6 separate regions of the Homo sapiens genome follow, and all the other regions are linked to region 3. Evidence: fine-mapped expression QTL. A gene starts in region 3. Each other region holds a variant in brackets. All regions are shown on one strand. Distances are between the middles of the regions.

Region 1 (5,077 bases), 22 kb after region 3:
CAAAGGGAAATTTATGTCCTGCTTCTAGGCAGAAAAGGAAAGGGCAGAGAGCTCTTCTTACAACTGCTATTTCTCCATTGCTTTCAGCCCAAAATAATCATATGCCAAGGTGGCATACTTTGGGGTGGTATAACCTGATCCCCTTCACCATGTCACTTAAATTCTCTCTTGTCCTGTTGCTGTGCTCAGAGATGCCCTGGGGTTTCAGTGTTGATCTCCCAGAAGAGCCATACATATCCTGTAAGAAACTATGCTCTGTTGGTTAAGAAACAGCCACCTAGATAAAGTTCAAAGAATTCTGCACTCCAGATTGTGTATGTTCCTAAATGTGGTTTGGCCTGGAGAAACAAGGACCAGGAAATCATGGAAAGCCAGGCAGATGGGAGTTAGAGAGCCTGGCAAGGGTCCTAAACAAGTGCTCCGTGCCTACCCTCCCACTACCCCCTGCCCATCTCTCCAGGAAGTGGTACTCAAACTCGAGCATGTGTTAGAATCACCCAGAAGGCTTATGAAAACAGATCCCAGGTCTTTGCCCACAGAATTTCAGATTTAGTAGATCTAGAATGCCCAGTAATTTGCAATTCTAACACGCTCTCTAGATGTAGCCTTGCTTCTGGTCAGAGACACCCTGAGTAGCACTGCTCTAGGGTGGTGAGACTCTCTGTCTTCCAGACAGGCTTTAAACTGACAAAAGACAGATGAACAGAGGAAAAGGCATTCATTTTATGGATGTTAATATTTTTACATAAATGGGGGCTTCACAGAAAAGAAGTGAAGAGCCAAAGAAGCAGTTAGACCTGGAGCTTATATATCATTTTAACAAAGGGGGATAAATTGTGGCCAGGTGATTAGATAAAAGAAAGGGGTTTGGGCTCCCCACTCTTTCTCCAGTGGGGAGAAAGAAGCTGCTGTGGGTGAAGTTTTACTGGGGATCTGGAGGAGGAGAAGGGGCCATGCTCATATCTGTATCTAGGTGCTAGAAAGAGAACAGCTGAGATTTTCCATAAACTGTCAGTACTAGTCAGGCTGAATCAGAGTGAATCTTTGGAATAGAAAAAAAATAAAGATTTTGCTTTCTCATCATCATAACACTCTTCTATTCAGTCTAGGCATAGCTAGTGCAACCTTTTGCTCCACCCAACCAGCTCCATTCCCTTTATCAATTATTTATAATATGCTTGGGTCACTCACGGGAGAAAAACACTGTCAGCATCAAGAGGTAGCAGAATTTTCAAAATACATTTTGCTGTCTTGAACAAAAAGTTTAACTATTTATTAGTCAGTAGTTCCATATGGTCTTATACTTTTTTCTGAGTCACAGTTTCACTGTGTCGCCCAGGCTGGAGTGCAGTGGTGTGATCTCCACTCACTATAACCTTCACCTCCTGGTTTAAGTAATTCTTGTGCCTCAGCCTGTAGCTGGGACTACAGGCGTGCGTCACCATGCCTGGCTAATCTTTCATATTTTTGGTAGATATGGGGTTTTGCCATGTTGCCCAGGCTGGTCTAGAACTCCTGACCTCAGGTAATCCACTCTCCTCAGCCTCCCAAAGTGCTGGGATTACAGGTGTGAGCCACCACACCCGGCCTGGTCTTATTACTTCTATACATAAGACAGGATCTTTCAACATTTATGTAGGTTAATATTTCCCATGTTTTTTGAGGATTCCCAAAAGACTTTGGGGGTTGCCAAAAAACTTTTAGGGGTTGAATCTTTTCGCAGTAACAGAAAGGGGAAACATCAATCCATGAGAGTTCAGACCAGCAGTTTAATAACACCCTCTTTCATAGCTCAGTTCCCAGTGCATGAAGAGATTCAAAGCAATCTTCTTGTTCTCAGTTCTTAGAAAGAAAAATTTGAGAGAGATAAAAGCAGTAATTATCTGTATTATTTAATAACTTAAATGTAATAGCCTAAGAAAAAACAGATGTCAAAAATATATAGTCTAAAAAAATAGAAGCTAAATCCTTTCCTCCTAGGATGTCTGAAAAGGAGAGACTCTATGGAGTATGGATGAAGCAAAAAAGGAGTGATTCCTACTGTGAAAGATGAACTGTGGACATAGTCACTCCAGACCACTGAGAGCAATTAGCCAATTTCATTGTCACCAGGAGGGCACATACCAGAGAATCTGGGAGAAAGCCTGGGCTAGAGCCCTTAGCATTCTCAGGCTTACTGGTGCTGTGATTCAACAGCCTTTGAGGGGATGAGGAGAACCAAAGACCACCACCATCACTTGTAAAAAGGATACTATAGCAACAACACAACTGTCAAAAATCACCTAGAGCTTAGACTGTATGCTGTTTGAAATCCAGCCTGAGTTGCTTTCTTGTGGAGGTATTGAGACATGTGCAGAGATACCTTAAATATGTGCAGGGGGCCCTTCTTTTTAAAGGACACTTCATGAGCTCTTTCTGCTCATTAGTTTTCCTAAGAGTTCACCATTTAAGCTAGAAAGATGCTGCAAGCTATCTCAGCTAGCTTCTAATTTGGACATAGCCCCAATACTACACACACAATTGAACAAGTGAAGAATCTTCCTGATTCTTCTTTGGACTGAATAGGTGTGATCTTGTTAAGAAAAATATGTAGACTTAGGGCCAGATTTTATCAGTCTCCATCCCAGAAAAATGGTGGAGCAAGCCTGGGCTCTTGCATAATTAAATGACTGGCTTTGCCACAACCTTGTACTGTCTTATCCTGGCAGCAACTGCTTCGATTTATCATCTTCCTGCTGGACTAATGGTTCTCCAGAGATGTCATCAATCCCATGTACACCAGGTGGATTGAAGCCCAGGTTATATACCCTGCTGCAAGGAGGGTGAATCCAACGTCGGCTGAGACAATCTTTAAGTGTTTCGAATGGAATCTTCAAACAGATCACTAAATCCACTTCATATATTTTGTCTTCAAATCAGGGCATTGGTTTGTCCTAAAGTCCTCAGAAAACCATCTGGGAGCCAGTGCTGG[G/T]CATACCTGTTCTCCAACTCTGACACCATTAGGTGTGTGATCACATGGTCTGGAACCGAAAGACTGTTCTCTGTTTATTGTTTTGCCATGTCAGTAACTTCGGTGTTGGCCTTGGTGTTCTCCCGCAAGAAATGGCCATTGGAGAGATGCTGGAGGCCAAACTTCTGGGCCAAGAGGAGCGGCCGGAGGATGACCATGTGCAGGAGTTTGGAAGCCATTGCCTTTGGGAGGAGTGGGGTGGCCAAAGGCGCAGCCAAGACGACCAGAGGGAGCACCAAGAACTTTGTTTCTTGGCCCCAACCTCTGGCACCCTCTCTGCTGGCTCTGGTACTCTGGTTACTCTCCTACTCAGGGAAGGAGAGACTTTTAAGACAACCCCTCCCCTTAGCCCTGTGCGGGGACTAACTCAGCCCTGTGCCAGTAGTCACATTCCATAAAGTCACAGCAAACACTGAATTAGCAAATACTGAACCATTGCTCCTAAAGGAAATACAGGGTCAGGTCTGGCGAGTCTCTGGTCACATTTTCACCAATCAATACATAACCTTGTTTTATGTGTGTTTCTGATTTGGGGACACTTTATTTAATATATATTGTTGATTCACTAATTTTGAACTCACGCCCAACAGCACTGTAACTCATGCCTGAACAAAACGTATACATGGAATTTTCTTTGCAAGGCACATTACAGCCTTCTTGGGCTTAAGGACACTTCAGTAACTTTATGACCAGTCTTGGGGGCCATTTTAAACATTGAAATCATCAATGAAAACCATGTGGAAAACATGACATTAAATGGACCATGACTTTTTTTTCTTTTTTTTCATTTGGAGACAGGGTCTTACTCTGTCACCCAAGCTGGAGTGCAGTGGCACAATTATAGCTCATTGCAGCCTTGATTTCCCTGGGCTCAAGCCATCCTCCCACCTCAGACTCCCAAGTAGCCGGGACTACAGACCTGTGCAATCATGCCTGGCTAATTTTTGTATTTTTTGTAGAGATGGGGTTTTGCTGTGTTGCCCAGGCTGGTCTCAAACCCCTGAGCTCAAGGGATCCTCCTGCCTTGGCCTCCCAAAGTGCTGGGATTACAGGCATGAGCCACTGTGCATGGCCGAAATTTTTTTCAATATGAGAGCTGAAATAAGAAGGCAGAGTCTGTGTCACTTTGTTTGCCTCGGCTGGGCACGTGCACATCCAGCAACTCAAAATTTTTACAACTCTGCGTGTGTCTCAATGACCACAAAAGTGCCATGAAAATTGATTTGGGGATTACAAATAGATTTTAGTGAGTAGACGAATTTGCAAATATAGAATCTGCAAATGATGAGCATCTACTATACCTAGACTTCACTCTTCTCCCTACTTATAATCTATTGGTACATCCCATTGACTGAACCCAACCAGAGGTCAGAATAACCTGTCAATACCATCTTATAAAGGTCAACTTCCTGAGTACCAAACAGGGTAAGCAAGGGTGGACAGTGGATCTGCAGGGGATCTAGAAAATATTCAGCATATCATCCCACGTTATCTGTAGCCTTGACTGGGATCCCTAGGGATCTGCCTATTTTATAAGACATTCATTCACTCATTCTTTTGTTCATCAAGTGTTTACTAAGCACCTAGCAATAAGCTATGTTCTGTGAGGTGTCTAGTAGAGGCTTAAAAATATTAGAAGATGTCGACCCCATTCTCTAAGGGCTCACAGTCCAGAAAGAAGAGCTGATAGTCAACTGACACATATTTGAGCACCTCCTATATTCCAGACTCTTTTTCAGGTGCCCAGGATGTGGCAGGTCCCAAGACAAATCTTTGTCCTGGCATAACTTACAGACCAGAGCAGAAGAAAGGGAAGTGGTTGAAAGACCTCATTGAAGGAAGGTTAGTGCTCTCATAGGAGCATTCACTCATCAGGGGAACAAGTAGGGCAGTGAGCATGGCCACAGAATAGTCAGCAAGAGCTTTCTGGAGGCAAGAAAGAGTATGGTTTGAAGGGCTCTGAGTCAGTGCCTGGAACCCAGATTGGGGAAGTAAAAATGATGAGAGATGAAGGCAAGTATTTGCAAAAATATGATTATATTACTAGTCCCAGTGCTGAGAAGTTCC
Region 2 (5,077 bases), 150 kb before region 3:
GATGGGTCTTGAGTCTTTATCCAATTTGCCAGTCTGTGTCTTTTAATTGGAGCATTTAGCCCATTTACATTTAAGGTTAATATTGTTATGTGTGAATTTGATCCTGTCATTATGATGTTAGCTGGTTATTTTGCTTGTTAGTTGATGCAGTTTCTTCCTAGCCTTGATGGTCTTTACAATTTGGCATGTTTTTGCAGTGGCTGGTACCAGTTTTTCCTTTCCACGTTTAGTGCTTCTTTCAGGAGCTCTTTTAAGGCAGGCCTGGTGGGGACAAAATCTCTCAGCATTTGCCTGTCTGTAAAGGATTTTATTTCTCTTTCACTTATGAAGCTTAGTTTGGCTGGATATGAAATTCTGGGTTGAAAATTCTTTTCTTTAAGAATGTTGAATATTGGCCCTCACTCTCTTCTGGCTTGTCGAGTTTCTGCCAAGAGATCGGCTGTTAGTCTGATGGGCTTCTCTTTGTGGGTAACCCGACCTTTCTCTGTGGCTGCCCTTAACATTTTTTCCTTCATTTCAACTTTGCTGAATCTGACAATTATGTGTCTTGGAGTTGCTCTTCTCAAGGAGTATCTTTGTGGCGTTCTCTGTATTTCCTGAATTTGAATGTTGGCCTGCCTTGCTAGATTGGGGAAGTTCTCCTGGATAATATCCTGCAGAGTGTTTTCCAACTTGGTTCCATTCTCCCCGTCACTTTCAGGTCAGGTACACCAATCAGACATAGATTTTGTCTTTTCACATAGTCCTATATTTCTTGGAGGCTTTGTTCGTTTCTTTTTATTCTTTTTTCTCTACACTTCTCTTCTCGCTTCATTTCATTCATTTCATCTTCCATCGCTGATACCCTTTCTTCCAGTTGATCGCATCGGCTACTGAGGCTTGCGCATTCGTCACGTAGTTCTCGTGCCATGGGTTTCAGCTCCATCAGGTCCTTTAAGGACTTCTCTCCATTGGTTATTCTAGTTAGCCATTCGTCTAATTTTTTTTCAAGGTTTTTAACTTCTTTGCCATTGGTTCGCACAGAGTAATTTGATTTTCTGAAGCCTTCTTTCAACTCGTCAAAGTCATTTTCCATCAAGCTTTGTTACATTGTTTGTGAGGAGCTGCGTTCCTTTGGAGGAGAAGAGGCACTCTGATTTTTAGAGTTTCCGGTTTTTCTGCTCTGTTTTTTCCCCGTCTTTGTGGTTTTATCTACCTTTGGTCTTTGATGATGGTGACGTACAGGTGGGTTTTTGGTGTGGATGTCCTTTCTGATTGTTAGTTTTCCCTCTAACAGTCAGGACCCTCAGCTGCAGGTCTGTTGGAGTTTGCTGGAGGTCCACTCCAGACGCTGTTTGCCTGGGTATCAGCAGCAGTGGCTGCAGAACAGTGGATATTGGTGAACCTCAAATGCTGCTGCCTGATCGTTGCTCTGGAAGTTTTGTCTCAGAGGAGTACCCGGCCGTGTGAAGTGTCAGTCTGTCCCTACTGGGGGGTGCCCCTCAGTTATGCTACTCAGGGGTCAGGGACCCACTTGAGGAGGCAGTCTGCCGGTTCTCAGATCTCAAGCTGTGTGCTGGGAGAGCCACTACCCTCTTCAAAGCTGTCAGACAGGGACATTTAAGTCTGCAGAGGTTACTGCTGCCTTTTGTTTGTCTGTGCCCTGCCCCCAGAGGTGGAGACTGCTGAGGAAGGCGGGCCTCCTTGAGCTGTGGTGGGCTCCACCCAGTTCAACTTCCCGGCTGCTTTGTTTACCTACTCAAGCCTCGGGAATGGCGGGCGCCCCTCCCCCAGCCTCGCTGCCACCTTGCAGTTTGATCTCAGACTGCTGTGCTAGCAATGAGCGAGGCTCCGTGGGCATAGGACCCTCCGAGCCAGGTGCGGGATATAATCTCCTGGTATGCCATTTGTTAACCCTGTTGGAAGAGCACAGTATTAGGGTGGGAGTGACTCGATTTTCCTGGTGCCGTCTGTCACCCCTTTCTTTGACTAGGAAAGGGAATTCCCTGACCCCTTGCGCTTCCCAGGTGAGGTGATGCCTTGCCCTGCTTCAGCTCACGCACAGTGCGCTGCACCCACTGTCCGGCACACCCCGGTGAGATGAACCCGGCATCTCAGTTGTAAATGCAGAAATCACCCGTCTTCTGTGTTGCTCATGCTGGGAGCTGTAGACTGGAGCTGTTCCTATTTGGCCATCTTGGCTCCACCCCCCCCCCCCCCCCCCCCCCCCCCCGCCATCTCATCAATTTATACAGAAATGTCTGCTGGGAGTTTGATTGGGATTACATTGAATCTTTGGATCCATTTGGGGAGAGTTGCTATCTTAGCAATATAAACAAGAT[G/A]TATTTCTCCATTGAAGTATTTTTACTTTCAGCACTGTTTTCTAGTTATCAGTGTACAAGTATTTCATCTCTTTTGCCAGATTTATCCATATCTCACAACTTTAATGTTACTGATTTTTTTCATTTTCTAATTGTTCTTATTAGTATGTAAAAATGCAGTTGATTTTTCTATATTTGTCTTGTGTCCAGCAGTCATACTAAACTCACTTATTATAGTTAATTCCATTAGGAGTCCTATGCAAATGACCATATCAAAAACAGTTTTACTTTTTCTCCCCAATTTATATACCTTTTCTTTTTCTTGTCTGAATTTACTGCCTAGAGTCTAGACAGTGTTGAATATGATGAAGGCATTCAGTCTTTTACCATTAAGAATGATGTTATAAATATTTTATAAATCTCTTTCATCCAGATATGGAAGTTTCCCATTTCTTCCTAATTTACTGAGAATTTTTAATCAGGAATGGATGTTGAATTTTGTCTAATGCTTTTAATGCAATGTATTCAGACTGTCATGGTTTTCCTTTTTTAGTTTGTTAATAAGGTAAATTACATGTATTTAATTTTGTTAAACCCCAACCCTGCATTCTTGGATAAACCTCATTTGGTTGTGATGTTTTTTTTTTATAAGGTTGAATTTAATTTGCTATAATTTTGTTTAGAATATGTTAATGAGGGAAGGAGAACTACAAACCACTGCTCAAGGAAATAAAAGAGGATACAAACAAATGGAAGAACATTCCATGCTCATGGGTAGGAAGAATCAATATCGTGAAAATGGCCATACTGCCCAAGGTGATTTACAGATTCAATGCCATCCCCATCAAGCTACCAATGAGTTTCTTCACAGAATTGGAAAAAACTACTTTAAAGTTCATATGGAACCAAAAAAGAGCCCGCATCGCCAAGTCAATCCTAAGCCAAAAGAACAAAGCTGGAGGCATCACACTACCTGACTTCAACTATACTACAAGGCTACAGTAACCAAAACAGCATGGTACTGGTACCAAAACAGAGATATAGATCAATGGAACAGAACAGAGCCCTCAGAAATAACGCCACATACCTACAACTATCTGATCTTTGACAAACCTGAGAAAAACAAGCAATGGGGAAAGGATTCCCTATTTAATAAATGGTGCTGGGAAAACTGGCTAGCCATATGTAGAAAGCTGAAACTGGATGCCTTCCTTACACCTTATACAAAAATCAATTCAAGATGGATTAAAGATTTAAATGTTAGACCTAAAACCATAAAAACCCTAGAAGAAAACCTAGGCATTACCATTCAGGACATAGGCATGGGCAAGGACTTCATGTCTAAAACACCAAAAGCAATGGCAACAAAAGCCAAAATTGACAAATGGGATGTAATTCAACTAAAGAGCTTCTGCACAGCAAAAGAAACTACCATCAGAGTGAACAGGCAACCTACAACATGGGAGAAAATTTTTGCAACCTACTCATCTGACAAAGGGCTAATATCCAGAATCTACAATGAACTCAAACAAATTTACAAGAAAAAAACAAACAAACCCATCAAAAAGTGGGCGAAGGACATGAACAGACACTTCTGAAAAGAAGACATTTATGCAGCCAAAAAACACATGAAAAAATGCTCATCATCACTGGCCATCAGAGAAATGCAAATCAAAGCCACTATGAGATATCATCTCACACCAGTTAGAATGGCAATCATTAAAAAGTCAGGAAACAACAGGTGCTGGAGAGGATGTGGAGAAATAGGAACAGTTTTACACTGTTGGTGGGACTGTAAACTAGTTCAACCATTGTGGAAGTCAGTGTGGCGATTCCTCAGGGATCTAGAACTAGAAATACCATTTGACCCAGCCATCCCATTACTGGGTATATACCCAAATGACTATAAATCATGCCGCTATAAAGACACATGCACACGTATGTTTATTGTGGCACTATTCACAATAGCAAAGACTTGAAACCAACCCAAATGTCCAACAATGATAGACTGGATTAAGAAAATGTGGCACATATACACCATGGAATAGTATGCAGCCATAAAAAATGATGAGTTCATGTCCTTTGTAGAGACATGGATGAAATTGGAAATCATCATTCTCAGTAAACTATCACAAGAACAAAAAACCAAACACCGCATATTCTCACTCATAGGTGGGAATTGAACAATGAGATCACAGGGAGACATGAAGGGGAATATCACACTCTGGGGACTGTGGTGGGGTGGGGGGAGGGGGGAGGGATAGCACTGGGAGATATACCTAAGGCTAGATGACGAGTTAGTGGGTGCAGCGCACCAGTATGGCACATGTATACATATGTAACTAACCTGCACAATGTGCACATGTACCCTAAAACTTAAAGTATAATAATAAAAAAAAAGAATATGTTAATGAGGGATCTTGGCCTGTAGTTATAATGTCTTTGTCTGGTTTTGTTATGAGGCCTCATAAAATGAGATAGGAAGTGGTTCCTTCTCTTTGGTGTTCTGGAAGAGTCTGTATTCAACTGATATTATTTATTTCTTAAAGAGTTGGTAGAATTTACCAGTGATGCTGTCTCAGCCTAGAATTTTCTTTGTGGAAAGGATTTGAATTGGAATTATAATTTCTTTAACAGACATTGGCTTTTCAGGGTACAGATTTCTTTTCAGTGAACTTTGGTGGTTTGTGTTTATCAAGGAATTTGTCCATCTCATCCAAGTTGTTAAAATTATTGTCATATTAATAATGTGACCTCATTATTCTTTTAATACCTCT
Region 3 (5,077 bases):
AGCTTTACCACAACATTGGTGATGTTGTCATAATAGCTTGTAAAACCTCCCAAGAAATCAATGCTAAAAGAGCCTGTGGGCCGTTGTACATCTACTGAAATCTTATGAAGGCTGTTGCTTTGCACTTCAATCAGTTTAATCTGTTCCAAAAGGTAGTGCACGGTCAGAATTTCATTTTCTGGACTTCCTGTAGTCCTGGGGCCAATGGAGGTTATGTGTTCAAGATAATCCCTGGAAGTAACCAAAAGAATAACAAAGGTTTGTAGTTAAAATTGACACTTAGCGTGGGTAACTTTTCCACTACACACCCCTTCCTCCCCAAAAAAGCTTAGTTCTTTGCCTTATATAAAAGGGACCGCCTTTCATTATTTCAGACACCAAGTGAACATCACTTATAAAGTTCCATATTTTTATTGTTGCCTCCCACGAGTTGACCCCTTCAGTTTTCTCCACCATCCCACTCCCAACTTCTCCCCATATCAAACCAATACAAGGACTAGGGATGTATTCAAAACGTGTGACCACTGGCCAGGCACGGTGGCTCACGCCTGTAATCCCAGGACTTTCGGAGGCTGAGGTGGGTGGATTGCTTGAGCTCAGGAGTTTGAGACCAGCCTGGGCAACATGGTGAAACCCCATCTCTTCTAAAACTACAAAAACTAGCCAGATGTAGACTACTATCCGCCTGTAGTCCCAGCTACTCAAGAGGCTGAGGTGGGAGGACTGCTTGAACCTGGGAGGTGGAGGCTACAGACCCGAGATGGAGCCACTGCACTCCAGCCTGGGCGACAGAGCCAGGCCCTGTCTCAGAAAACAAACAAAAAAAGCTAAAGACTAAGCAGGATAGAATATAACTTCACTGTGCATACTCCTGAACGTTACAGATTCTGGGTTAATGACTTTAAGTAGCAGAAACCAATGAGCAAAAATAATCAAGTCAAGAGGTTAAATAAGGCGGGCGGGGGAAACTTTTGATGGACCTAGCCCTCCTAGCATACACCCAAGGTCTAATAACTTCAATTCAGGCCAAAACCAACTGTACCCCTAATGAAAACAAAACTGTTTTTGTCTTTTCACTGCATTCCAAGTGGGGAAAGCTGGAAGTGGGGGTGGGAGACGTTTCAGAAAGTCCTTAATAAGCTTGCAACACTTTGCATTCTAGCAAAAACTTTTTAGAACACAGTAGCTGTTGAAAACTTGACGCCAGCTTAACACTTCATGAGCTTTGACACACCTGGGTTACAATATCTTTGACTTAATCACCTTTCCTAGCATTCTTAAAGGTCTTAAAAAAAAAAAAAAAAGTCAAACCTTACACAGTCACTAATCCAAGGGGCCTAAAGATAAACTGCAGGGATCTGAGAATTTATCAGACTGCATACCAAATTTTGACTGGGCGGTGTTCCAGAAAGAGTTTCTATAGCCTTCAGATGTGGGGGCTGTAACCCTCAGAAAGTTAGAACAGTGCACTAGCGCCTTCCAAAACTCCCCGCCCCCAAAGCGAATTTATACAACAGTCTAGGTACACAAATTTCCATCTGGAAAGCAGAAGGGCTAAGCAAGGTAAAAAGGGGAAGCTGTTCCAGAATATGGGGAGACGACTCACAACCAACCATCTGCACGAAGGGCAGACAGTGGAAAGCAGGTTCAATCTACCTGGCAACCCCAATCTGCACCACGAGCTTAACCGGGGACAGGCAAGCCCCAAGTCCCGGCAATTCAGACCCCAGAAGAAGGACAAGCAAGGTCACCCCACCCCACGTGCAGCCTGGGAGGGGTCAGCGAGTCCCAGCGGTCCGGCAGGGGCGGGTGCACACAGGTGCGGTGCCCCGGAGCCTGCGCAGGAGCCGCAAACGGACGCGCGGGCCGTGCCAGGAGGGAGCGGCCGGTACCTGGCTTGGAGCGCGTCGAACTCCCCGCGGTGTCCAGCGGCCCCGCGTAGCACGAGCTGCTGCAGCGAGAGCTGCACCAGCGTCCGCAGCGCGATCAGGTAGAGCGCGAGCCCCAGCGCGGCGCGCACCTCAGACAGCCCGGTCCCCGCGCCCCTGCTCGCGCCGCCGCTACCCCCGGGGCTCCTCTTCCGCGTCCTCCCGCCGCCGCTGCACCCATCCACCAGAGGCTCCTGCGCTCGGGCCTCCCTCTCCGGCGGTGGCGCGGCCGCCGCTCCCTCTCGACGCTCTACTCCGACGCGGTGCCGCCTCACAGCAGCCGACTCAGAACCCCACTCCATGGCCACGAGCCTCAGCTGCCAGCCCAACCGCCCCAACCCGCGACAGCCCCGGCCGCCGCCGACGCCGCCGTCGCTGCCGCAGCGCCTCCTAGTGAGCGGACGGAAACTGCAGAGGGCCAAACTTCTTCTGATTGGCCCGTCCCGCCGCGCCAAGACCCAGCTTCTTTGGCAGTTCTCGGGTGCACACAGCTGCAGGGCCGACCCAGCAGCGGGTGGTGGATATGCCGTCTCCCGCAGGGCTTTTCCAGCCCTCTGTAGGACGGAGATTGCCAAATGTAAAGACACCTAAAAACCCAAAACGAGAAAAATGAGAGATCGCTTTTGAAAGAACACACAAGGCTCTTACAGTGCATCAGGCAGATGAAAAAAGCAATGACCTGGCTTTCGTAAGGAAGGAATATTAGAACATCAGGCTCCAAAAAAGTGGGTTCCTGGCTCTTAAAATTAGAAATAAGATTACGCAGAGGAGGCCCGGCCTATTGCTTTCACATGCATAATCTAATCAGATCTTCATAACTCAGCAACTTAATCTGTGCTATTACTGTCTCCATTTAACAGATAAAGAAAAATAATGGCTATTATTTATTGAATACCTGCTATGAGCTAAGCGCTAGGTCAAGTCCTTTAATACATCATCTTATTTAATTATCTTTAACAATACTTAAAAGGAAATATCTTTGTTCCCATTTTATAACCTGAGAAACGTAGAGATAACAGATGAAGAATGTAAATCTAATTTCATGGGCTCCCAAAACAGCATTCTGTTCCACTACTACATTAGCACTCTGCAAGTGAAGGTTCAGAAAGGCCATTCTTCACTTGACGACTCTCTGGGGCGGTTAAGCAGCAGAGCCTTGGTTTCAGTGCAGATCCTAGTGATTATCTAGTCTTCTTCCAGCTTGCCGGTACCCATGAGCCTCTCTGCTCCAAGGTTTTTTGTCCCTAGCTTGGAGTTGCTACATTAGCATGAGCATTAACCTAGAGACCAACTGGGAGAGCACACTGCCGGATTTTGACTTAGCACATATGTCAGATTTCATACAATGCCCTATAGTCCTGCTCTTGCCCACCTCTCAGGCTCCTCTGACACCAGGATGCTTCTTATTTCCAGCTCTCCAGCCACACTGGCCTCTTTCAAAGACTTCCTGCACGCATCTTTCCTTCTACAATAGGATCTTCTCACATGCTGTTTGAATTACCTGGAGTGTTCTTCTCTCTCCTCATTGTCTTTTTAACTCCTAGTTATCCTTTAAATCTCAGATTAAGTGGTACTTCCTCAAGCAAGAATCTCCTAATTTAATTAAGCTTGCTTCCCCTATTTGTAGGATCTCACAGCACCATGTTTGCATGTGACTATTTCATAACTTCCTCATTAGACTGTAAGCCCCACGAAGGCAGGAATCAGGTCTGGTTTTACTCACCATTTTATTCCTTGCTCTTAACACAAAGCATGACACATAGTATGTAGTCAATAGATATTTCTTGAGTGAATGAAAAAATGAAAACATACCACTTTTGTGGCAGCAAGCATAATTTTAGCTCTACAAGATCCCTTTCAGTCTGTAAGCACTATGAGACTAAAGACAGTGTCTATCTTATTTAATCATCACTGTATCCATAGTGCTTAGCTCTGGATAAGAGCCTAGCCCATGGTCATAACTATATGTATGTATATATGTGTGTGTGTGTGTGTGTGTGTGTGTGTGTGTGTGTGTGTGTATGTCTGACAATATCCCATGGTACCATAATAGGGAAATGCCTGGCTGCCTGGCTGTTGGGGACGGGTAGATCTGAGTTCCTGGATCTGGTACCTTTAGTACACATGGCATTATTCAAGTTACAATCTCACAGAGTCCACGTGTATTTATCTGTGGTAATGCAGATGATACCTGCCTTAAGGGGCTTCAGTGAGGATTAGATAGATAGACAGATGATAGATGGATAGATAGATGTGTGTGTGTGTGTGTGTGTGTGTGTGTGTGTGTGTGTGTGTGTGTGAAAGATCCTCACATAAGATTCTCATTAAAAACTATTTTTCAGAATTTTCCTTCTCATGAAATCCTTTGTAGATTAGATTAAAAGCTACTTTCCTATCATGATAATCATAGAACTCTAGGTGGTAGGAGTTAAGTTACAGCTGAGTTCCTGAAAGGCAGTTTTTCTCTATACTTGTATAGTCTACGGTATTCACGTTTGAATATTTTTAGCTACTAGTTGTTGGATATCTACTTGTGTCAGATACTGATTAAGGTGGAGAAACAGAGAAGAACAAATCAATGTTTCTACCTTCAGAGAGCTTACATTCTAACAAAGAGACAATGAACGCGCGCGCGCATGTGTGTGTGTGTATAAAATGTCAGAGAGTTAAGTGCCATAAAGAAAAATAAAGCAGGGAAATTGAGACTGACAAAAGCTGCTGTTTTATTAGGGTGATCAGAGATGGTCTCACAGTCTCTCTGAGAAGATGACATTTGAGGTGACCTGAATGAAGTGAGGAACAGGGCCACATAAGCCTGGGGAGAGAATGTTCCAGCAGAGGAAAGTGAGCTGGGATGTTCAGAGGCAACGTCGAATAAGGCATGCACTAAAGCAGACTGAGCCAGGAGCCCTGGTAGATGTGAGGTGACAGAGGTGGGTAGGAGCCAGTGCAAGGAAGGCCTCCTGGCCCTGGTGAGGACTCTGGGGTGGTTTTGAGCAGTGAAAGGTCATGCTTTAGGTGATGTTATATAAGATCACTCAGTCTCCATCCCAGGCAGAGCAGCACAGTGACCACATCTAGAACATATAGGCTTATAAAACACTTTGATAATGTCTGGTCTTTGAAGTGTTCAAAGCCAGTTTGATCTA
Region 4 (5,077 bases), 160 kb before region 3:
TCCCTGGAAAAGACATAAGGACTACATAAAAATTGATAATGATTATCTGTGAATGGTGAAACTATTGGCAGTTTATTTTTGTTACTTTCTGTGTTTCTTGGGTTTTCTTCATTGAACATGGAGAAATTTGTCATTCATAAAAAAAAAATTTAACAAAAATTCATTTATGATCCTGTATGAATTTTAAAATTCATATAAGCTAAAATGTTAATTCATGTTTTAAATAGCCCAAGTAAGGATGAATTAAATTACTAGAAGCAGGTCAGCATTTACTCAATATATTTAATATAAGCCAGATTACTATGACTAATATTATATTTATCTTAACATCTCCACAAAGTTCTAGAAATAAGACGGTGGTGAAAGGATAATAAAAACTCAGGACCCCAATTCACCACTCCAAAAGGGAAAAAATAAGCTGAAAGCCCAGTCATGCAAGAAACTGCCTTTCCTTTTGTTCCTGAGCTGATAACTACAGATAAAAGGTTAGGTTACCTACTCCACAAGTAGCTACTTATGTTCACCATATCTTATGTAAAGTGCCTGTTTAATGATGCCAGACGAATACATAATTGACTATTCCCCTACCTGCTCTTTTCTCTTGGAACTTGTGGATTACCATACCCTCCTTCTCTCCCCTCCAGCCCACTTTTCCCCTTTAAAGATTGAAGCCCTCAAATTCATCTTTGGAGAAAGGCACAGATCACAGACTGTCACTGTGATTCTGTTTTTTTGTTCCGGGCATATGCTTAACCTTGGCAAAATAAACTTCTAAATTGATTGAGACCTGTCTCAGATACTTCTTGGTTTACAACTATGTTCTAAATAAAGTGTTGGTGCCACAAAAGAAATAGCACTCAAATATAAAATTTTCTTTTTAATTCTCAGCAAGGCAGTGTACTTCTATAGAGGGGTGCGCCCTTACAGATGGAGCAATGGTGAGCGCACACTTGGACAAGGGAGGGGAAGGGGTTCTTATCCCTGACGCACGTGGCCCCTGCTGCTGTGTCGTTCCCCTCTTGGCTAGGGTTAGACCGCACAGGCTAAACTAATTCCGATTGGCTAATTTAAAGAGAGTGACTGGGCGAGTGGTTTGGCGGGAAAAATGGTTATGGCAGAGCAGGAAATTGGAATGAGTCAGGGTGGAGAATGAGCAGGTAATGGGAACGAGTCAGGGTGGAGTAGGTAATCGGAATGAGTCAGGGTGGAGGAGGTAATCTAAAAAGATTGCTTTATGAGGAAGTTAAGTTTAAAAGTAGAAGGCAAAGAATTGAACTTACTGACATATCGATTCTTTGAAGAGAAACTTAGAACTCCTATCTAACAACTATAAGTAATAAATAAGTGAAATAAAAATTAGATTTTCAGTGGCCAAAAATATTAAATTATTTTGTTACTCTTTATGTACTTTATTTCTTCAACTTACGACAAGTATAATTTCTTCTAACTTCTTTGTTGTCTTAATATTTAGCGTAATATAAAAGGTAGTCACTTAATAAATTAATGTGAAATTATTTCTGATATAAAAATAAAGCTATCAGACTGTTCCCTCTGTACTGTCTAGTGGGAATTTTAGGGGGGAAAAATGTACATACAAAATGGCCTACAAATAACATGGAGGAATCATATGTAAAAACTAATGTACCAGTTGCTTAAACTTTCACTAAACTCTTCTTCCTTTGAAAGATGAGGAAGAGTTTTAATTATATACTGAATATAAAAATTATGCTATTCATAATATGCATACAGCACATTTGCAGTCAGTGGTAAATTATTGATCTTGAAACCACCTTTGCAAAAATAACAATGAGAAAATTATGACAGTAAAAGAAATCTAATCTAACCCCCATCTTGCCTTTAACCTCCCAACTGCCCTTGGTCATTCCTGGGCCTAGGCCATGCTAACTTTAGGAGAAATTTATAGTTTAAATGATAATGGCCCTTCCCCAAAACTAAACCACCTTTGTAAAGCTAACGAAAGACGAGGTCTTGCTGTGTTGCCCAGGCTGGTCTCAATCTCCTGGACTTAAGTGATACGCCCACCTCAGACTCCCAAAGTGCTGGGATTACAGATGTGAGCCACTGCACCTGGCCTGGATAAGCAAACTTTCTAGGTAACCAAAGCTTTATCAGATTCTGAAACGTTACTAATTTAATGATTCTTTTCCTCAAATGTATTCTATAGTTTTTTATCCTTGTATGAAATATATTGAATATGAATTAACGGTGTACTTGAAGATTAAATTGTATAATTATAATAGTAAATTTTGGGAGGTGTCTATGTTCTAGGCACTGTTGTAGTGCTTTATGTGTATTAAAATTAATTTGTTATTCATAACAATCCTCTCAAGGTAGATACTTTTATATTCCCAT[C/G]ATACAGTTGAGCAAACTAGGGTACAGAGAGGTTAAGTAACCTGCTCAAGAATACATGGCTAATAATGAAATGTTAGTAATATTTTGAAAGCTCTATTTCTGCATCATTATTAGAGCCATAGGCATCTCCTTATCAATTTGTATCTTAAAAAGAAATCTCACTGGCACTTTTTTAATGGGGTTTAAAGAAAAAAATTGCTCTACTGTTTTAAGAATCCCCACCTCTCTCAAAACCAACGACTGATCTGCTTTTTGTCACTGCCAATTACTTTGTGTTTTCTGGTTTTATATAAATTAAGTCATACACTGTATACTTATTTTTTCTAGTTTCTCTCAGCATATTTTGAGATTCATCCATTTTGTCGTGAATCAGTAATTCATTATGAGTATTAGTTTACGGATTTCTCACAGTTGGTTTATCCATTCATCTGTTGATGGACAGTTTGACTTGTTTCCCGTTTGGGGCTGTAACAAACAAAACTACATGAACATTGATGTACAAGTCTTTGTATGGATGCGTATTTCCTTTTCTGTTGGGTAAATATCCATGAGTGGAACAGCTACATTATATGGTAGAAGTATATTTGACTTTTAAAGGAAATGTGAAACTTTTCTGAAGTAGTTATACCATTTTACATTCCCGCTAGCAGTGTATGAGAATTTCTATTTTCCTCTATCTTTGCCAACATGTGGTAGGGTATGCCTTTTTAATTTTAGTCATTCTGGTAGTGGTGTAGTGATATCTCATTATAATTTTAACTTGCATTTTTCTAATAACTAATGATGTTGAACATTTTTCTCATTTGTTTATTTGTTATGTGTGTGTCTTATTTGGTAAAATGTGTGTTCAAATCTTTTGCCCATTTTTTTAGATGGGATCCTTGATTTCTTGTTGTTAAGTTCATATTTTGCATCTTGATATCTGTTCCAGTACAATTGGTTGAAAAGATTATCCCTTCTACACAGCATATCTTTTGCACCTTTGTCAAAAATCAGTTGTCTACATATGTGTGGGTTTACTTCTATATACTTCATTCTGTTCCATGATCTATTTGTATATATTTAACATCATTTTGATTACTCTAGATATATAATAATTTTTGAAATCACACAGTGTTAGGTCTCCAACTTTGTTCATTTTCAAAGTTGCTTTTGCTATTGTAGGCCTTTGTATTTCCATATTTTATGTTCATCTCAATTTTTTTTTGTAAACATTAAAACACAGGAAAAGAATTAGAGCATAGATATAAGGGTTATTTTTACTTATAGCATTATATGTAAATTAAAACTACATTGTTTTGAAAAAACTTCCACTGAACAAACATTTTTCTCACCATGTTTACTCTTTTTTTTTAAATTTTATTATTATTATACTTTAAGTTTTAGGGTACATGTGCACAATGTGTAGGTTTGTTACATATGTATACATGTGCCATGTTAGTGTGATGCACCCATTAACTCATTTAGCATTAGGTATATCTCCTAATGCTATCCCTCCCCCCTGCCCCCACCCCACAACAGTCCCCAGTGTGTGATGTTCCCCTTCCTGTGTCCATGTGTTCTCATTGTTCAATTCCCACCTATGAGTGAGAACATGCGGTGTTTGTTTTTTTGTCCTTGGGATAGTTTGCTGAGAATGATGGTTTCCAGCTTCATCCATGTCCCTACAAAGGACATGAACTCATCCTTTTTTATGGCTGCATAGTATTCCATGGTATATATGTGCCACATTTTCTTAATCCAGTCTATCATTGTTGGACATTTGGCTTGGTTTCAAGTGTTTGCTATTGTGAATAGTGCCGCAGTAAACATACGTGTGCATGTGTCTTTATAGCAGCATGATTTATAGTCATTTGGGTATATACCCAGTAATGGGATGGCTGGGTCAAATGGTATTTCTAGTTCTAGATCCCTGAGGAATCGCCACACTGACTTCCACAATGGTTGAACTAGTTTACAGTCCCACCAACAGTGTAAAACTGTTCCTATTTCTCCACATCCTCTCCAGCACCTGTTGTTTCCTGACTTTTTAATGATTGCCATTCTAACTGGTGTGAGATGATATCTCATAGTGGCTTTGATTTGCATTTCTCTGATGGCCAGTGATGATGAGCATTTTTTCATGTGTTTTTTGGCTGCATAAATGTCTTCTTTTGAGAAGTGTCTGTTTGTATCTTTCGCCCACTTTTTGATGGGGTTGTTTTTTTCTTGTAAATTTGTTTGAGTTCATTGTAGATTCTGGATATTAGCCCTTTGTCAGATGAGTAGGTTGCAAAAATTTTTTCCCATTCTGTAGGTTGCCTGTTCACTCTGATGGTAGTTTCTTTTGCTGTGCAGAAGCTCTTTAGTTGAATTAGATCCCATTTGTCAATTTTGGCTTTTGTTGCCATTGCTTTTGGTGTTTTAGACATGAAGTCCTTGCCCATGCCTATGTCCTGAATGGTATTGCCTAGGTTTTCTTCTAGGGTTTTTATGGTTTTAGGTCTAACATTTAAGTCTTTAATCCATCTTGAATTAATTTTTGTATAAGGTATAAGGAAGGGATCCAGTTTCAGCTTTCTACATATGGCTAGCCAGTTTTCCCAGCACCATTTATTAAATAGGGAATCCTTTCCCCATTTCTTGTTTTTGTCAGGTTTGTCCAAGATCAGATAGTTGTAGATATGTGGCATTATTTCTGAGGGCTCTGTTCTGTTCCATTGGT
Region 5 (5,077 bases), 44 kb after region 3:
AAAAGCAAGTTGAGGGTTAAACATAAACACACACATACACACACACACTCACAGTAAGGTATGCAGATCCACATGAAGAAAAGAAGAGCATAAAATGAAAAATTTCCCATCTCTACAGTAAAACACCCAAACAAAACAAATAAATTCCCAAAACATCTGCTTCTGGCCTCAGTGTACGTAGTTGGAAGAGGGAAAGGAAAGATGACCCAGAGTTGATGGGGGAAAGATGTTGCCCTGAAGGAAAAGGGAAGGAAGGAGCCCCCAGGGCTAAAGGAAGGGGCTCAGTGACTTGGTCGAGCCTGGACTGGCGGGGGTTACTTCTGCTTGAGAGTGGGGCCTGGAACACCCCTACCCTGGGTGGAGAGAGGAGTTAGAGGAGGGCAAAACCTGCTCAGGGAGGTCTGTGATGAGAAAAGGCCCATGAAATGGCGTCTCATCTAGCCACAAGCCAAGTATGGATCTCAGGAAAGGGCTGGGCATGTGGCTCATGCCTGTGATTCCAACACTTTGAGAGACCAAGACAAGAGGGTTGGTTGAGGCAAAGGAGTTTGAGACCAGCCTGGACAATATAGCGAGATCCCCTCTCTGCAAAATCTTTGAAAACCAATAGGCCTAGCATGGTGGTGCATACCTGTAGTCACAGAGACTCAGCAGGCTGAGGCCGGAGGATTGCTTGAGGCCACAAGTTTGAGGTTGCAGTGAGCTATGATCACACCACTGCACTCCAGCCTGGGTGACAGAGTGAGACCTTATCTCTAAAAAATTTTAAATTAAAAAACAGATCTCAGGGAGGGAGGCTTACTCTCAACTGGAGTAAAGGAAACAGCAAGAGAGGCCATGAGCAAGGGAGCAGCGAGTCTGTGGCAGCAAGCAGTGGCTGCTCAGAGGGGCCATGGGGCAGGGGGAGCAGAAGCCCTGGGTGTGGGATCTTTCTCATGGCTTTGCTGGGAAGCTGTGGGTGGGCTCCCCAGTTGGGATTCACTTTTCAGGGACTTTTCTCTATCAGCTTGTACTTCTGTCCAGGTCAGAGACTGCATGGTTTTCAATCTTTAGCTTGTGTTGGAATTACCTGCAGAGCTTGTGAAAATACTGAAGGTTGAGTTTCTGATTTAGTAAGTCTGGGGTGGGGCCTGAGGGTGTGTTTTTCTAACCAGTCCCTAGGGGCTGTTGCTGCTGCCTGTCGAGGACTACATTTTGAGACCCATTGAACAGGAAGACAATTTTATTTTATGTGACACCATGGTAGGCATGTGTAGCCTCTCATGTAACACTCACCACAGCTCTGCTGGAGAGGTGCTGGACAGTTTGTGAACCTCTGTTATGGGTTGAATTGTGTCCACCAAAATATGTTGATGTCCTAACCCCCTGGACCTCAGAATGTGACTTTATTTGGAACTAGGGTAGTTGTAGGTGTAATTAAGATGGGGTCCTATTGGGGTAAGGTAATCTGATATGACTGGTGTCGTTATAACAAGATACAGAAACACAGAGAGTGAAGAATGCCACATGAGGACAGAGACAGGGAGAAGACAGCCATGTGACAATGGAGGTGCAAATTCGAGTGATGCACCCACAAGCCATAGAATGCTCAGCACTGCCAGGCACCAGCAGAGGCCAGGAGAGAAGGAAGGATTCTCCCCTATAGATTTCAGAGACAGCATGGCCCTGCTGACACCACGCTGTGGCCTTCTAGCCTCCAGAACTGTGACACAGTAAATGTGTGTTGTTTTAAGCCACCCAATTTGTGTTACTTTGTTACGGCAGCCAGAGGAAACTAATACACTCTCAAAGCCAAACTAGCCTTAGGCTGTTCTCTCCAGGTGACTCAGCTGTTCTGTGAGTGCTGTGACTGCAACTGGCGGGACCTGGGATCCCTTCCTGAGTCAAAGAGAGCTATGGACATGAGGTGACCTGGTGCAGAAACATTGCCCAGTGGGGGCACTCTTTCCCGGATAGTGACGATTGGCCTAGCCAGCTCCTTTGACTGTGTGCGAGTGATAAAGAGGTAACAAGACGCATCAGAAGGAGCAAGCAGGGGGCATCCTGCAAAGCCATTCCAGCCACAGTCATCTCCTTAATGAAGAGGGGGCTTGTCCCAGGTCTCCAGGAAGCAGTTATGAAATTGTCCTGTTCTTCCTAATAATTAACTTATCTACCTCATCTGAGCAACCATTTGTGTGCCTCTCTTCTTTGCAATCTGGAAGGACCTAAAAAAATAAGAAGAATTCTAAATTAAAAATTACGATCTTCATTTCTCAGTTGAGCAAACTGAGGCTCAGAATGGTTAGGTAACTTATCCAGGGGCTAATAAACTGCAGAGATTGGTCTTAAACCCCTGGCTTCTATTTTACCATCGCATTCAAGTTATCTCTCAGGGGAAAGGCCCACGCAGAGTCTCTTGGTGTGAGGTGGCTTCTACTGTGAGCACCCCACATATCAGACTATGTGCCCTGCAGAATGCACAATGGCCACACCATGGGCTTGGGCAGGGGCCAGCAAGCAGTTTCCTCAACAAGCTACTAAGAAAAAGGTGGCTGCTCCCTCTCTGTCTTTGG[C/G]GCCCAGAGCTTGCCTCATTCTTGCCTCATGCATGTCTGCATCATTCATTCAACAAGCACTTATTAAATACCTTCTATGCTTCCCAGCCTTTGAGTGTTAAGGGTTCGTGCAGTTCTTTAATTTGAGGAGTTATCCTTCACACCCTTAACCACTAACTCAGTATCCCCCTCCCTAAGCAATCAATATGATTTTTACTATAGAGGAATTCATACAGGAAAGGGATTTATGCCTAAGGCTGTCCATGTATTGTCTGAAGAAGGTCTGCCTTCGAAAACATGTGTTCATGTGATGTAGACTATTAGAGGTTCAGAAAGGGAAACAGCAACTCAACAAGCTTTGGTGACTACTGAATCCAGTCCTTGGCATATCATAGGAGCTCAAGAAATGTTATGGACTAGTTGAAAGGATCTGGGCAATGCCTCTGTTAGAAATTATTTATCACCAGGACCAGTTAAAAATCAGTGTCTTCATTTATTTATTTACTTTTATTCATTCAAGAAATATCTATTGAGTCCCTACTGATAATGGAAAGGTGAATGAGTCAGTCCCTGCTCCTGAGAACATTAAGGAATAATCAACATGGAGGGTCCCTGGAACCAATGTTACTAAATAAATAACCGACCCTGGGGAAGAGCAACCATACTTAAAAGGCATCTTATGCTGGACTGTGTTTAGTTCCTGAGAAGTGTCCCCCTTGGGGAGGCACCATGTATAAGAATGGGAGTTGGGCCATTTGCCAGTTACTACTTATGTAATCCTAAATTATCTAAACTCATGAGCCTCATTCTCCTCTGTAAAAGGGGTGTAATAATCACACCTACCTGACAGCGCTGCTGTGAGGATTTGAGAAGAATATGAAATAATCCATGTAATAATCAGTTTGCTCAGTTTCTGGCACTCAGTAAGAAGACATACATTTAGTAGATATTTATGGGCTGAGCTCCTTGTGGAAAGGGATTACATTTTAGTCTCTTTGTTAACTACTTCGAGGAATAGGCCCATCAATCACACAAGAGGTGGGATCTATAATGACTCTTCATAATGATGTGGCCCAAAGAGTGTTTCTTGGAGCACCAAAGCCAACAAACACTTTCTTCATAATTAAATAGTTCGAGAAACTCTGCTGGCAATGCAACTGTCTTCTCTTGAAGATTCATAAGGTATATCAGTAGATTAAGGATGTTAGAAGAGTTTGTAATGAAGAAACCTGTTTAACTTTATTTAGTTCAGTGTTTTCCAATCTTATCGGACCAATAATGTACCCTGGAAGAACCCAAACTCCTGAAGCTTCAACTTGGAAGGAGATTCTGGGCAGAGAGATGGTTGATGCCAGAGCTCCTGCCTCTCCTGAGGGTTTCTTCTCCCCCATGGAGTTCTCACTTTACTCTCTGCTGTTGCCATCTATTGACTTCCAGGGTTGTTCTGACGCCTCATTAAAACTCACAGTAGAGCTGATGCTGGCTGAAATATTACAAAGACTTTGCTAAACATCAGAGGGACTTCCAGAAGAATACAAAGAAACATCAAGAAACACATCAGGCTGGGTGCGGTGGCTCACACCTGTAATTCCAGCACTTTAGGAGGCTGAGGTGGGCAGATCACTTTAGGTCAGGAGTTCGAGACCAGCCTGGCCAACATGGTGAAACCCCATCTCTACTAAAAATAAAAAAATTATCCGGGTGTGATGGTGCACTCCAGCCTGGGAAGGGCAACAGAGCAAGACTCTGTCTCAAAAAAAAAAGAGAGAAAGAAAAAGAGAAAAAAGAAACACATCAAAGCCTGATGGGAGTTGCAGCCCCCACACAGCCGGCTGCTGGCAGGCATTGTCCCCTTGAGACCCTGCCTCCTTTTCATCCCTAAAGGGCTGGTTGACCCATGATCAACCCAATCCCAATCCCCAATGCCAGCGGCCCCAAAGGAACCTGACCCTTGATGACCGCCCACACTGGTCTGGTGGCCACCGCTGGCTCTTTAAGATATGCTTGGGCCCTTGAAGCTTCTCTTAATTAACTGACAAGCAGACACTGGGCTGGACCAATTAAATGAGCTCAGGGATGACTCACTGGAAGGAAATGCAGAGATACAGAACCAGATAATCTGACTCACATGGTCAGCCTCTCTAGGTTCTAGCTTATTTACCTGCAGAATGTCAGAGATAATGGATTTATCCGACCTCTGACTATAATTCTAAAAAATCCCATAGCTCGGATCTCCCTGTCAGATAATAAGTCAGTTCTACTGAATTATTTTTTAATGTAACAAGACAAAAATGCTACGTAGAACTTACTTCTTTCTGAGACAGAATCTCGCTCTGTCTCCCAAGCTGGAGTGCAGTGGTATGATCTCAGCTCACTGCAACCTCCGCCTCCCGGGTTCCAGAGATTCTCCAACTTCAACCTCCCAAGTAGCTGGGATTACAGGCACACAGCACCATGCCCAGCTAACTTTTTTTATTTTTAGTAGAGACAGGGTTTCACCATGTTGGCCAGGCTGGTCTCACTCCTGACCTCAAGAGTTCTGT
Region 6 (5,077 bases), 70 kb after region 3:
TTACTCCACCTTTAACAATCTTCATTAAGCTTGAAATGTCTACTTTTCAACTTCCATTTGTCCACAGAGAGGCTGGTTGGAATTTAGATCTCTTAAAATTTCTCCCTTGGTTAACAATTCCCCTGAGCCCTGGAAAACATCTTTTGAAAGGAAAGGCTGCTTTTTGTAGCAACAGGAAGTGGGAAATGATTTGTAATAAACTGAACAGTGGTTTTTATATTAACCAGTTTTACATCTTCACTTGGAAGTTCAAGGACAAAATACTTTTGATTCTTGGAGAATTTCATGGCCCTTGCTCTCAGCTCAGTTTACACTCATGTGTCAGGGCACTGTGTTTTTCAATGCATGGTCAGTGGTCACCTGCACTGGAATACTTTGGGGTTCTTGCTAAAAGGCAGATTCTGGGATCATCTCTGGTGGTGGGATTCAGGAATCTATATTTTAAAATGTACACCCAGTTTTAATGTAAATACAGAGAACTGGCAGTGAACCGGTAGAGTGGATCATACTCTTAACCTATGGTGAGTGAGAGGCTTAAAAAAAAAAGAAAAAGAAAAAAATGGTAATTGACAAGGGCAGTTTTATTTTTTTTTCCCAATCAGTACACCTTTTATATCCTTTTCCAGTTTATTGCATTAGTTATTTGCAACTTCCAGTATGATGCTGAAAAGGAGTGGTGAGACAGGACATCCTTGCCTTGTTCCTGATCTTAGCAGAAAAGCTTCAAGTATGATGTTAACTGTTGATTTTTTGTACCTAGATATTCTTCAGCAAACTTGAGTAAGTTTCCCTTTATCCCTCGTTTATTGAGAGTTTTAAATTATGAATGGGTGTTTGATTTTGTCAAATGCTTTTTCTACATCTATTGATACAATCTTGCAAATTTCTTCTTTAGTCTATTGATGTATCAGAATAATTCATTTCTCTTTTTCTTTTTTTTTGAGATGGGGTCTCATTCTGTCACCCAGGCTGGAGTGCAGTGGCTCAATCTCAGCTTACTGTAACCTTCACCTCCCAGGCTCAGGTGATCCTCCCACCCCAGCCTTCCAAGTAGCTGGGACCACAGGTGTAAGCCACCACGCCTGGCTAAATTTTTTTGTATTTTCGGTAGAGATGGGGTTTCACCATGTTGCCCAGGCTGGTCTCAAACTCCTGAGCACAAGCAATCCACCTGCCTCAGCCTCCCAAAGTGCTGGGATTACAGGCGTGAGCCACCACGCCTGGCCTGATTTCTCAATATTGAACCAGGTTTGCATACCTGGCATAAATCCTATTTTGTCATGGTATGTAATTCCTTTTATACATTGTTAGTTTGACTTGCTAATATTTTGTTGAGATTTTTTGCATCTGTATTCATGAGTGATATTGAGCTGTAGTTTTCTCTTTTTGCAATATCTGTCTGGTATTAGGGTAATGCTGGCCTCATAGCAATGAGTTACAAAGTATTCCCTTTGCTTCTATCTTCTGAAAGAGGTTATAGAGAATTGGTATAATATCTTTCTTAAATGTTTGGTAGAACTCACCACTGAACTCATCTGGGTCTGGTGCTTTCTGTTTTGGAAAGTTATTATTGATTCAATTTTTATAATAGATATAAATCTCTTCAGATGGTCTAGTTCTTCTTGCGTGGATTTTGACAGATTGTGTCTTTCAAAGAATTGTTACATTCACCTAGGTTTTCAAATTTGTGAGCATAGTTCATAGTATTCCTTGCTTATCCTTTTCATGTCCATTATTATTTCTGATAATAGTAGTTTGTGCCTTTTTATTTCTTAGCCTAGCTAAAGGCTTATCAATTTTATTGATCTTTTCCCAGAATCAGCATTTGGTTTCATTGATTTACTCTACTGACTTTTTTTTCTTTCTTTCTTTCCTTTTTTTTTTCTAGAGACAGGGTCTCATTCTGTCATCCAGACTGGAGTGCAGTGGCACAATCATAGCTCACTGTTACCTTGAACTCCTGGGCTCAAGCACTCCAATCCTCCTGGCTCAGCCTCCTGAGTAGCTAGGACTACAGCTAGCTACCATAGTAGCTAGGATTATAGCATGTGCCTCCAGGTCTGATTAATTTTCTTTTTTTTTTTTTTAATTTGTAGAGACAGAGTCTCACTATGTTGCTCTGGTTGGTCTCAAACTCCTGGCTTCAAGCAGTCCTCCTGCCTTGCCCTCCCAAAGTACTGGCATTATAGGCATGAGCCATTGTGCTCTGCTGATTTCTTGTTTTCAATTTCATTGATTTCTGCTCTAATTTTTATTTTTCCGCTTACTTTGGATTTAATTTGCTGTTCTCTTTATTTTCCTAAGGTGAAAGCTTAGATGACTGATTTTAGATCTTTCTTCTTCTCTAATATACACATTCAATGTCATACATTTCCCTCTAAATACTGCTTGCACTGCTAAGCAGTATCCCACAAATTCTGATATCATATTTTAATTTCATTTAATTCAAAATATATTTAAATTTCTCCTGAGATTTCTCCTTTGACTCATGTGTTATGTAGAAGTGTGTTGTTTAATCTCCAAGTGTTGGGAATTTTTCAGTTATCTTTCTGTATTGATTTCTGCTTTAATTCTATTATAGTCTAAGTGCAAACATGGTATAATTTCTATTCTTTTAAATTTGTTAAGATGTGTTTTGTGGCCCAGAATGTGGTTTATCCTGGTTAATGTTCTGAGCTTGAGAAGAAAGTGTATTCTG[T/C]TGTCGTTGGATGAAGTAGCCTACAGATGTCTATTATATCTAGTTAATCGAAGATTTTGTTGAGTTCCACTCTGTCACAGTATATAATTCCTTTTATATATTGTTAGGTTTGATTTGCTAATATGTTGTTGAGTTTTTTTGCATCTATATTTATGAGAGATAACGAATTGTCATTTTCTTTTCTTGTAATATCTTTGTTTTTGATATTAGGGTAATGTTGGCCTCATACAATGAGTTAGTCCTTACTGATTTTTTACCTGCTGGCTTTGTGTTATTTCTGATAGAGAGATGTTGAAGCCTCCAACTGTAACTCCAACTTCATAGTGGATGCAACTATTTTTCCTTGCAGTTCTATCAGTTTTTATCTCATGTATTTTGATGCTGTGTTCTTAGGTACATGCAATGTTAGGTGTTCTTATGTCTTCTTGGAGAATGAACACCTTTATCGTTATGTAATATCCCTCTTTATCCCTGATAACTTTCCTTGAAATCTCCTTCTGAAACTAATATAGGAACTCCTACTTTCTTTTCATTAGTGTTAGCATGGTATATCTTTTTCTATGCACTTACTTTTTTTTTTTTGAGACAGAGTCTCGCTGTGTCACCTAGACTGGAGTGCAGTGGTGTGATCTCAGCTCACTGCAACCTCCACTTCCTGGGTTCAAGTGATTCTCCTGCCTCAGCCTCCCAAGTAGCTGGTATTACAGGTGTGCGCCACCAAGCCTGGCTAAGTTTTGTATTTTTAGCAGAGATGGGGTTTCACCATGTTGCCCAGGCTGGTCTTGAACTCCTGAGCTCAGGCAATCCGCCTGCCTTGGTCTCCCAAAGTGCTTGGGATTACAGGTGTGAGCCACCATGCCTGGCCTCTATCCACTTACTTTTAATGTACATGTATGTGTCTTTATATTTAAAGAGGGTTTCTTGTAGAGAACACATAGTTGGGTCTTGTTTGTTGATCCACTCTGACAATCTGTCTTTTAATTGGTGCATTTAGACCATTGATATTCAAAGTAGTTATTGATATAGTTGGATTGATATCTACCATATTGTTACTGTTTTCTACCTGTTGCCTCTGTTCTTTGTTTCTATTTTTGTCTTTACTCTTTTTCTGCCTTTTGTGATTTTCACTGGACATTTTATATGATTCCATTTTCTCTCCTTTCTTGGCATATCAGTTATACTTTTTTCTTTTTGAGACAGAATCTCACTCACTCTGTCGCCCAGGCTGGAGTGCAGTGGCACGATCTCAGCTCACTGCCACCTCTGCCTCCCAGGTTCAAGTGATTCTCCTGTCTCAGCCTCCTGAGTAGCTGAGATTAAAGGTGCATACTACTATGCTCATCTAATTTTTGTATTTTTAGTAGAGACGGGGTTTCATCATGTTGGCCAGGCTGGAACTCGACCTCAAGTGATCCACCCACTTGGCCTCCCAAAGTGCTAGGATTACAGGCGTGAGCCACCGCGCCCAGTCCAGTTACACTTCTTTTTTTTTTTTTTTGAGACGGAGTCTCACTCCGTTGCCCAGGCTGGAGTGCAGTGGTATGATCTGGGCTCACTGCAAGCTCTGCCTCCTGGGTTCATGCCATTCTCCTGACTCAGCCTCCCAAGTAGCTGGGACTACAGGTGCCCGCTACCATGCCTGGCTAATTTTTTGTATTTATAGTAGAGATGTCATTTCACTGTGTTAGCCAGGATGGTCTCAATCTCCTGACCTCGTGATCCACACGCCTTGACCTCCCAAAGTGCTGCGATTACAGGTGTGAGCCACCGTGCCCGGCCTTATACTTCTTTTTTACTTTTTTTCAGTGGTTTCCCTAGAGTTTGCAACATACATTTACAACTAATTCAAATCCACTTTCAAATAACACTATACCATTTCATAGGCATTATGAGTATCTTAAAATAATCCTAATTCCTTCCTCCTGTAAACTAAAAACAAAATCCTAAATCCTCCAAACAACTGAATGGACCCCCTCTTCACCAAGGGGACCCCAGGGAAACCTGAAAAACTGAGTGTTGGCCATGACGGGAAGGGAGGTGAGAGATGCCTCATTATACTCCCTCCCTTTTAGAGTTTTAGGTACAACTGACCAGCATTAATTTTAAAATAGAGATTACAGGACTGACAGAATGAACTCTTTGTGGCAATATCAAATTAGGAACAAGACAATGCAAGGAAAGGGTTAAATCATGCCCTTCAAACCATAAAAAAATTTTTTTTTAATTAACCCCATATAATGTGGTATACTTTCCAAACTGACTCTGGTATAGCATCACATGACAGATTGCAGACTCCCTTACCTTAAGCATTCCTTTATACTGACTTCAAGTCTTAAGACAGAGCTGAACTCTTTCAACCAGCTGCTAACTAAAGAATAC

What was found. PIP is the estimated chance that this variant, and not a neighbour inherited with it, causes the effect.
Region 1: its variant is the best candidate, but not a certain one, in a credible set for the expression of ERMP1 in sun-exposed skin (GTEx, PIP 0.83).
Region 2: its variant is the best candidate, but not a certain one, in a credible set for the expression of ERMP1 in blood mononuclear cells (TOPMed, PIP 0.70).
Region 4: its variant is the best candidate, but not a certain one, in a credible set for the expression of ERMP1 in whole blood (TOPMed, PIP 0.72).
Region 5: its variant is the best candidate, but not a certain one, in a credible set for the expression of ERMP1 in sun-exposed skin (GTEx, PIP 0.68).
Region 6: its variant is the best candidate, but not a certain one, in a credible set for the expression of ERMP1 in breast (GTEx, PIP 0.58).

The regions. Positions count from the first base shown.
Region 1 is chr9:5,853,238-5,858,314 of GRCh38, forward strand. It overlaps a transcript of ERMP1 not described here and the pseudogene AK4P4. Among named protein-coding and RNA genes, the nearest start is that of ERMP1, 23 kb to the left of the region's middle. RefSeq lists a silencer at 595-644. The variant G/T (reference allele first, on the strand shown) is at 2,972.
Region 2 is chr9:5,682,090-5,687,166 of GRCh38, forward strand. All of the region lies in intron 2 of RIC1 (RIC1 partner of RAB6A GEF complex), which reads left to right. Among named protein-coding and RNA genes, the nearest start is that of INCR1, 55 kb to the left of the region's middle. The variant G/A (reference allele first, on the strand shown) is at 2,322.
Region 3 is chr9:5,830,798-5,835,874 of GRCh38, forward strand. ERMP1 (endoplasmic reticulum metallopeptidase 1) reads right to left here and starts at 2,320. Exons shown (of 15, transcript NM_024896.3): 1 at 1,893-2,320; 2 at 1-231. The coding sequence starts at 2,230. RefSeq lists silencers at 1,887-2,106, 2,187-2,406.
Region 4 is chr9:5,674,123-5,679,199 of GRCh38, forward strand. The region is part of intron 2 of RIC1 (RIC1 partner of RAB6A GEF complex); the gene reads left to right. Among named protein-coding and RNA genes, the nearest start is that of INCR1, 47 kb to the left of the region's middle. The variant C/G (reference allele first, on the strand shown) is at 2,374.
Region 5 is chr9:5,875,087-5,880,163 of GRCh38, forward strand. It overlaps a transcript of BRD10 not described here. Among named protein-coding and RNA genes, the nearest start is that of MLANA, 13 kb to the right of the region's middle. RefSeq lists an enhancer at 4,535-5,036. The variant C/G (reference allele first, on the strand shown) is at 2,556.
Region 6 is chr9:5,900,596-5,905,672 of GRCh38, forward strand. All of the region lies in intron 3 of MLANA (melan-A), which reads left to right. It also overlaps a transcript of BRD10 not described here. Among named protein-coding and RNA genes, the nearest start is that of MLANA, 12 kb to the left of the region's middle. The variant T/C (reference allele first, on the strand shown) is at 2,699.